Linked DNA regions of Homo sapiens. The protein of the gene in region 2 purifies or fractionates together with the protein of the main gene of each other region. This does not show direct contact. Each region holds a gene or a part of one and is shown on either strand. Other genes may lie near its edges. The genes, in order: NPHP4 and EML4.

Region 1 (3,816 bases), on a different chromosome or scaffold from region 2:
GTCCTGAGAGTTGCCACCATGAGATGCAGCTGCCAGGGAGATGTGGAGACGCCCCATACAGCAGCATAGGGGTTGCAAGCAGCAGCCCCACTAAAAGCCCGCACTGGGAGTCAGAACATCAGGGACAGGCTGCACAGACAGGGTAGGAGGGGACAGCCCCGCCGCCGCCAGCAGGCCCTCCCCAGCCACGCAGAAGCACGCAGGGATCCACTGTGCTTAAGGGGGGACAGAGGGTTTTCTTGCAAGTAATTGACTCTGGAATTCTGAAGGAGGCCGTGGGGGGCCTGGACTTACCCCTGGTCCCACAGGTGAGTTCTGCGGGGCAGCGAGAACTCGAGGTACTGGCGCTGGCGGGCCTGGGAGGAAGCACAGTGGGGTAGGAGAGGGAATGTGTCAGCCTGTGTTGGGGGCAGTGGGCCCCTGAACCCCCACGCAGTCAGGTCTCCACAGGCCTCACCACCTTGTCTGTAACAGGGGCAGCCGCTGGTTACCGTTCAGGGGCAACAGCAGCAAGGGTGCCACCCAAAAGTGTCGCTGTCTATCTAGAGCCCTGGCATGCACCAGCAGCCAGGAGAGGGGGTACAGCTGGCCTCGTCCTCACTGTTCTTCCTGGGCCAGCAGGTCTCACAGCTTGGGGTGCTTGGAGCTCCCTAACACGCTTCTCCTCACTAGTCATCTTTGCATCTTCCCTGCCCGGAAGAGCTGGGGTCTGAGGTTGCCCCAGTCTTGCAGCTCCCTGACTCCGGCTGTTTTGTTAACCGAGAAGCTCCTGAGCAGACACTGCCAACCTGGCTTGCGGCCTCACGAACACCCACTAAGCACAAGCTGTCCGCCAGGTCCTGCTGAGGATTCTCCATGCAGGCCCGGTAACACTGGGAGGCGCACCTGGGGGAGGCAAGGCCAGCCCTTCATGGGGTCCCCCTGGAGCCAGGGACTGAGAACTGCCTTGGCCCTTTATAAGGCCACAGCTGCCTCCCAAGCATCCAGGGGCTGCCTAAAGAGCCAGCAGCCTCCTCCCAGGGCCACCTGTACCTGCCCAGCCCCGCCTCAGCCCAGCTGGCATTTGTGCTGCTTCTGCAACCCCTCCCCAGGCCACATGGACACCTCATGGCCCAGCAGACCCAGGGCTCTCAGCCCCTGCACCTCAGCAGGAGGAAGCCCCAGCATCGCTGGAGTCTCTGAAACCCACCAGGCTCCTGCCACAGCGGTGCTGGAGCGTCCATAGCCACTCGTCTCTTACGGTCATTTCACATACACTGCCATTTGCCTTTGCCCACCATGAAACCACCAAGCCAGACCCCAAGCCCATCCTGACGGGGCCACCTCTGCCCACTCAGAGGCCAGGGTGGGAGCCCTGCACACTGAGTCATCTGCCTGGCTTCCCTGAGGCCCACAGCCCAGTCTCCAGCCCATGTCCTGTCCCCACCTGGCTCATGACAGCCTCCTTCACGGTGACAGGACTCTCCACTGCAGCAGACACTACCACTCCCCATCGGACTTCCAGGATAACCCAGACCTCCGGAGAAATCAGGCTTCCCCCATGGCCCTGTCCCACCTCCCGTCACCCCCATGTGGCCCACATCTTGGGCCCAGCAGCTCGCCTTCCCTCCCTCTCCTGTGGCCTCTGCTGCCATGAAGGTTGGGCAAACGAATCTCCTATATGTCCTGGTATCCTGAATTCCTATGGCACAGAGCACAGGCCGGCACTTACGGGACCTACGGACCAAGCACACAGCACAGAGGCCTGTGACGTCAAACGCTGGGCACTCTGGATAGAGACTGCTCAGCCACTTCGTGTTCCGCTCTGAATCCCAAAAAAACAAAAACAACAAGGAAAATGCTGTCGACCAAGGAGAAACCAAATCCAGAAAGTGCCGCCCTAACACCAGAGCTGCACGACCATCGGAGCCAATCCCCGCCGTGCCTCTCCCAGCAGCTTCCAGAACCCATCCAAGGAGGTGCTTCCCCAGCTGCAGGATCTGGTGGAAACCCTGCTAAGGGCCTGTGGATGGGTGGAAGGCATTGGGGCAAGGCCAGAGGGAGCCCCCAACCCTCAGAGGATCCAACTGCCCAGCCTGGCGGGCACAGCTCCCAGTCCAACTACCTCCTGGGCAGCGCCCATTTGGCCCGCGCAGCTCCTCTGTAACCAGCCACAGTAACGTGGCTCCAAGGAGCACAAAGACTCTGGTCAGAGGAACCTGCCCTTCTATAAATGAGCTCACGTGCTCGGAGGGAGTTAGCAAATGATCTAGCAAGCTCTGCTTCCCCAGGAAAATATCATCTCACTAAAAGCAAAATGCAGATGAGGATTCTGCAGGGGCCCAGCTGTCCTCAAAGCCGATGCCTCTCCCCAGATTCCCTGAGTGCCTCTTACAGTCCATTTCAGAGCTCCGTACGGCAAACCCCTGCCCACCTCCTCCCAGAAAAAGCCTGAAAGATGACACAGCAGAGTGGTAAGTGAAGCTCCACGCCGTTCCTCCGTAAATGGGAACTCGGAAAACTCCGCAGGCTGATTTTGATAATGAGGACAAATTGCCAGAAATGGCTCCATTATCTTCAGCAGAGACAGCGGGCACTCGGGGGCCAGCCCTCCGTGCCTGTGTGCGTCCTCTTGGGGAGGAAAAGCTGGATGAAAAGTTAAACCTTCCAAGCACATCTGAACTTCTCGCATGCATTTTATTTCCCCATCGTCTCAAATTTGCATACAGTGTGGAAAGTTTTTTCAAGTAACTCTTTATATCATGACTTATGCAATTTTTTCTTCCAAGAGAGTAAACCTACCTACAAGGCCATTTAAAAAGGCCATTAAAGGTGGCCATTTAAAAAGATACCTGGTGGGAAGCCCAGACCCCCAGGGCCCAAAACTCAGATCCAACCGGTGAAGCAGAGCAGGAAGAGACACACCAAGGCCACGAAATAACTCAGTTTCGAATCTCTTTGTTTTAATGTTCGATGTGGTTATGGGTTAAGGTGCTTCCCAAACTATACTCATAGTCCTGCCCAGAGGACAGCGCGGCCGCCAGGGAGCACCCGCTGTACTCCAGGCCCCAGGAGTCTTCCAAAAACCACGGTGGAGTCTGGGAAGCCTGACTTCCGCCACATAACAGGACTTGGCTGACAAGCACCTGGGCCAGCAACTGAACCGGGAGCAGCATGCGTGTGCACAGGACACAGGTAGGAGCAGCTGCGGTGAGCAGACAGACGAGCACAAGGCTGTCTGGGGCAGCGCTGCGACAACAGCAAAACATTAGACACAATCCTGGTGCTCCTGCAAATGGAAGCTACCTCAGCAGAACCCGGCAGATCCTGCGTGGGGCAGGGGAGCAATGGGATGGGAGGAGACCAGCCGGTGTGTGCAGAACTGGGAAGGCAGCCGCGGCAAGTTAAAAAGTGACGATAGGCCGGGCACGGTGGCTCACGCCTGTAATCCCAGCACTTTGGGAGGCCGAGGCGGGTGGATCACAAGGTCAGGAGATCGAGACCATCCTGGCTAACACGGTGAAACCCCATCTCTACTAAAAATACAAAAAATTAGCCGGGTATGGTGGTGGGCACCTGTAGTCCCAGCTACTCAGGAGGCTGAGGCAGGAGAATGGCGTGAACCCGGGAGGCGGAGCTTTCGGTGAGCCGAGATCGCGCCACTGCACTCCAGCCTGGGCAACACAGTGAGACTCCGTCTCAAAAAAAAAAAAAAAAAAGAAAAAAGAAAAAAGAAAAATGAAAGAAACCCACAGTGTATACGGGTGTGCTGGCAAACTCGTGGTAACCACACCCATGAGACATGCTAGGAAACGCGTATTCCTACATTGCCCATAA
Region 2 (3,664 bases):
GTAAGGCAATAATGAAAACCCCATCATTTCTATGATTGTAAACCTGGGGAATGTTTGGAATACTATCAATCAACCTATTCTTTATAAAGAAACATTTGTAGTAGCCAATTTGTGATTGTGGTATACAGAAGATCTGCGTTAAAAAGCAACATGGGAGAGATGGGAGAAAGCAGAGAATGCCATGGCCTACTGAGTTCAAGTACTTCACAAAGGCTAACACTGCGAGGCAGCCTAGTCGGATGGGTAACGAAGATTATCAGGATTATCCAATATTAAACATTAGAGAAAGTGCTGACATGAAATAAGTGAAAACAAAGCTATCCACATATTCAGGGGGAGCATAAATCAGAAGTAATTTCCTCTAACATTATGAGATGGGAGTTTGTTACTACCAGAATGATTTTATCCACAGCAGCAGCAGTAGCCCACTGATAAATGTTGTCTTCTGAATTGTCATGCCTTCTGATAACTGGATAGTCATGGAAACTCTCAGTATAAATGAAGAAAGAGTTAAGACGCACTTAGAAAGAGGAAACATTTTGATTATTTTATTTTTTAATCTTCAAAATTTTCTGCCATGAGACAGGAATGCATGATAGCAATGGCTCAACATCTTCACATGAAACACTTGGATTCATTTTCATTCACAAGTTTTTCTAAAAACATCTACAATTTCATAACCCCACCCACTTCCAACCATTATCACAGATTTAACTGACCATTAAACAGTAGTTGCCAGCATTAAATAGCTGGAACGCTTCCTGCGTATTAGTAGTGTCTTTTGAAACTACCACCGAAGAGTATCATGATTATAAATCTCATTGTACATGGCAACCCCAAAGGTGACTGATGTCCTCAAATAAACTCCCTGCTGATCACTGAGAGCTGTATTCCCCAGGTACTTAAAGAAATGCTCTTTCTTCTCCAAGAACTGCCTGTTCATGTCAGTATATTTCTTGCAGGGAGTATAGCACATGCTGATCTGATGATGTAATAATCATTGCTAACAGACAGATATATATGCCTGATACTTACTGGCGCGCTCCGATAAGTATGTACAGAACATACATACTGAAGAAAGATGGGTTGCTTGGAATCTCTCTTCTTTTGAAGAGAACTATTTTGAGGTTTTTTAACAGTTGTAAACAAAAGGAAAGATATACAGATACCTATACACATAGAGATCTACACTGAGTATTTTCAACGTGGTGCATATCTTCTTATCTAGAGATACACACAGTGTCTCCACTCGCCCCTTCACACACACCCACACCCTTCCATACAGCGTGTGAATATAAATGTTGTAAATGTCCTTGGGAGTTCACTGGAGTTTTCATATTACCAAATGATGATGAAATACCTGATTTGTATTACTCCTGAGAAGATATTAGAAGGGAATGACAGTTCTGATGCACTTTGGAATGGCACAATCACGTAAACGCCTGCATACTTAAGACTTCTTAACTCATCCAAAGTTTCTAAACATGATTTGACCAAAAAAATAGAAAGTATCAAAACAATGCAGCAAGTTAAAAAATCAAAACAAAATACTTTTTTATAATCAAAGTATAAACATATAGGAAATACATATTTGTCAGTAATTACTCTTAAAGTAGGAAATGTACTGAAAACCATAGCTAGCCAACAGAACTTAAAAAAAATACCTTTCCAATGCATAATACATGCATTGCCCAAAAGAGTAGGATAGCCACATTAGACTTACAAGACTTACAGCAACTCCACCAGAAAAAAACTGCTACACAGCAAGTCTGTTAAGTATGCTGTTGGTAAAAAAAACTGCTGTGACTGTTACCCACACTTCTGTAAAAAAAAGAATTTGCAATTTGATGAGTATCTTATCCCTCATATAATCTGTATAAAATTACAACAAAACCAATAAATTTCAAGCACCAATTCAATAATCTAAACTTACTGTATTTATATTTCTCCTATTACTGAGGGAACAAATTATGATGAAGGCTTAGCTGAAATTAGCCAGGTAATTATTACAGTTTAGTTTTAAAGGCATGTGGTTTTCCTTCCATTCACTTGAATCTCAAACATTTGAGAATGTTTAGGCTAGTAAAGGACTCCTTGGAGGAATCCATCATTTCTGAGTATTGAAGGTTTTAATATACATTGAAAGCTCTTTAACAAACCAATGCTCTCTTAGTTCTAGGATAAAACAGAGTTGCACACAAGAAATTAAGGGACTGTTCCTCATTATGACTTAGAAAAGGCAGCACCTCTCTAGTAGACTAAGAGCATGTCTGGACATCCACTGGTAGTGTAAGAAAACGGCATTTTTTAAAGAAGGCAACACCATTGCACTTGGCAAAACTGAAGTTTTTCTTAATTAAAAATTTTCCATTACACATTTGGGGTGAGAGGGTATCTCAGTAAGAGTACATTTTTTTCTGGTTTCTTTTTCAGGAAAAAAAAAAAAAAAAGTAGTACAGTCTGAGCCAGTAGATGAGTAACAGTGTTTGTGATACCTCTGGTTGTTCCTGAAGAAAACATGTTCAGATAACAAGGGGGTTTGTTTTCAAAATCAATGCAACTGCTGTTTTTGTTTCCAGTATTTACATCACACCACTTAGGTACACAGTAATTTGTGAGACATCATTAATGATTCAGTCTTCTCCTAGTATTAAGTTTGGTTAATTTTCAATAAACACCAAACTAAAACTTTAAGTTGGCTGTATTTGAGAGACTGAAAATAAGACTATTGAAGAAAACAAATCACATGGAAACCAAAATCTCAATCAACAGTGATTCTCCATCACTGCCCATCCTGTTACCTGAACTTTATCACAAAATCACATGCAGCTGAAGGAAAAGAGTTGCACTGAAGCCAGGGTGTTAGGACGAGGGCGAAGGGTCTTGCTGGTCCTCCAGAAGGGTGGCTTTGGCCTGCTCCTTGCTTATCTCGTTGCATGGCTCTTCATAAAGAGGCTCACCAAGGTCTCCGCTGCCCTCTTCACTCTCCTCCTCGCTGTGGTCTTCACTTGGCTCCACAGTTTGTTCCAGGCTGTTCTCCAGAAGTGTGGGAGAACTGCTTATTCTACTTTCCTCTTCAGCTGTCTCATTTAAGGGCTGAGAAGGAGGCGGTGTGGGAGTATTAGATTGGATGACACTTTCAGTGGAAGAGACGGGGGCTTTGGTTAGAGTAGTATCCGCTACAGTCTCATTCTGAGGCAAAGATAACTTTTCCACAAGTTTCCACTGAATGATGCTCATGTCTTTTCCACCAGTTGATATCAGGTGACTGTCATTGTGAGTAAAACTGACATTGGTGACATGGCTGCTGTGGGCACTGTACTTGTGACTGGGAGCCTATATGAAATAAATCAGACAGACAGGAAAATTAAACTCATTCTTGACATGCCTGTTTCAGAAATGGAGGTGATACGTAAGGGGGGTAAACTCAGCTTGTGAAATGGGCAATCCAATTTAAAGCCAGAAGTCATCAAATCTCAGGAGTAAGGCTAGCCGTTATTTCCTTTTATTATCACTTTACATAGGAAAAACGAAACAGAAGAATTGGACATCTCTGTATTTTCACACTATATGTTTAAAAAAATAGCTAAAAGTCTGTCTCTTCTAGATGTTGGTCGTATACTTGCCAGAGCTTAGTAATTATTCTTCTGAAATGGTTAGGGGA

The links.
Region 1: the proteins of EML4 (region 2) and NPHP4 purify together in Homo sapiens (co-immunoprecipitation; one large-scale study listed by IntAct). This does not show direct contact.

Annotation. Positions count from the first base shown.
Region 1 is NC_000001.11:5,908,858-5,912,673, forward strand, and holds part of NPHP4 (nephrocystin-4), read right to left. Parts: intron 357-3,816; coding exon 295-356; intron 1-294. UniProt on the Homo sapiens protein: Involved in the organization of apical junctions; the function is proposed to implicate a NPHP1-4-8 module. Does not seem to be strictly required for ciliogenesis. Required for building functional cilia.
Region 2 is NC_000002.12:42,329,406-42,333,069, reverse strand, and holds the end of EML4 (echinoderm microtubule-associated protein-like 4), read right to left. Parts: intron 3,337-3,664; coding exon 2,863-3,336; 3' UTR 522-2,862; downstream 1-521. UniProt on the Homo sapiens protein: Essential for the formation and stability of microtubules (MTs). Required for the organization of the mitotic spindle and for the proper attachment of kinetochores to MTs. Promotes the recruitment of NUDC to the mitotic spindle for mitotic progression.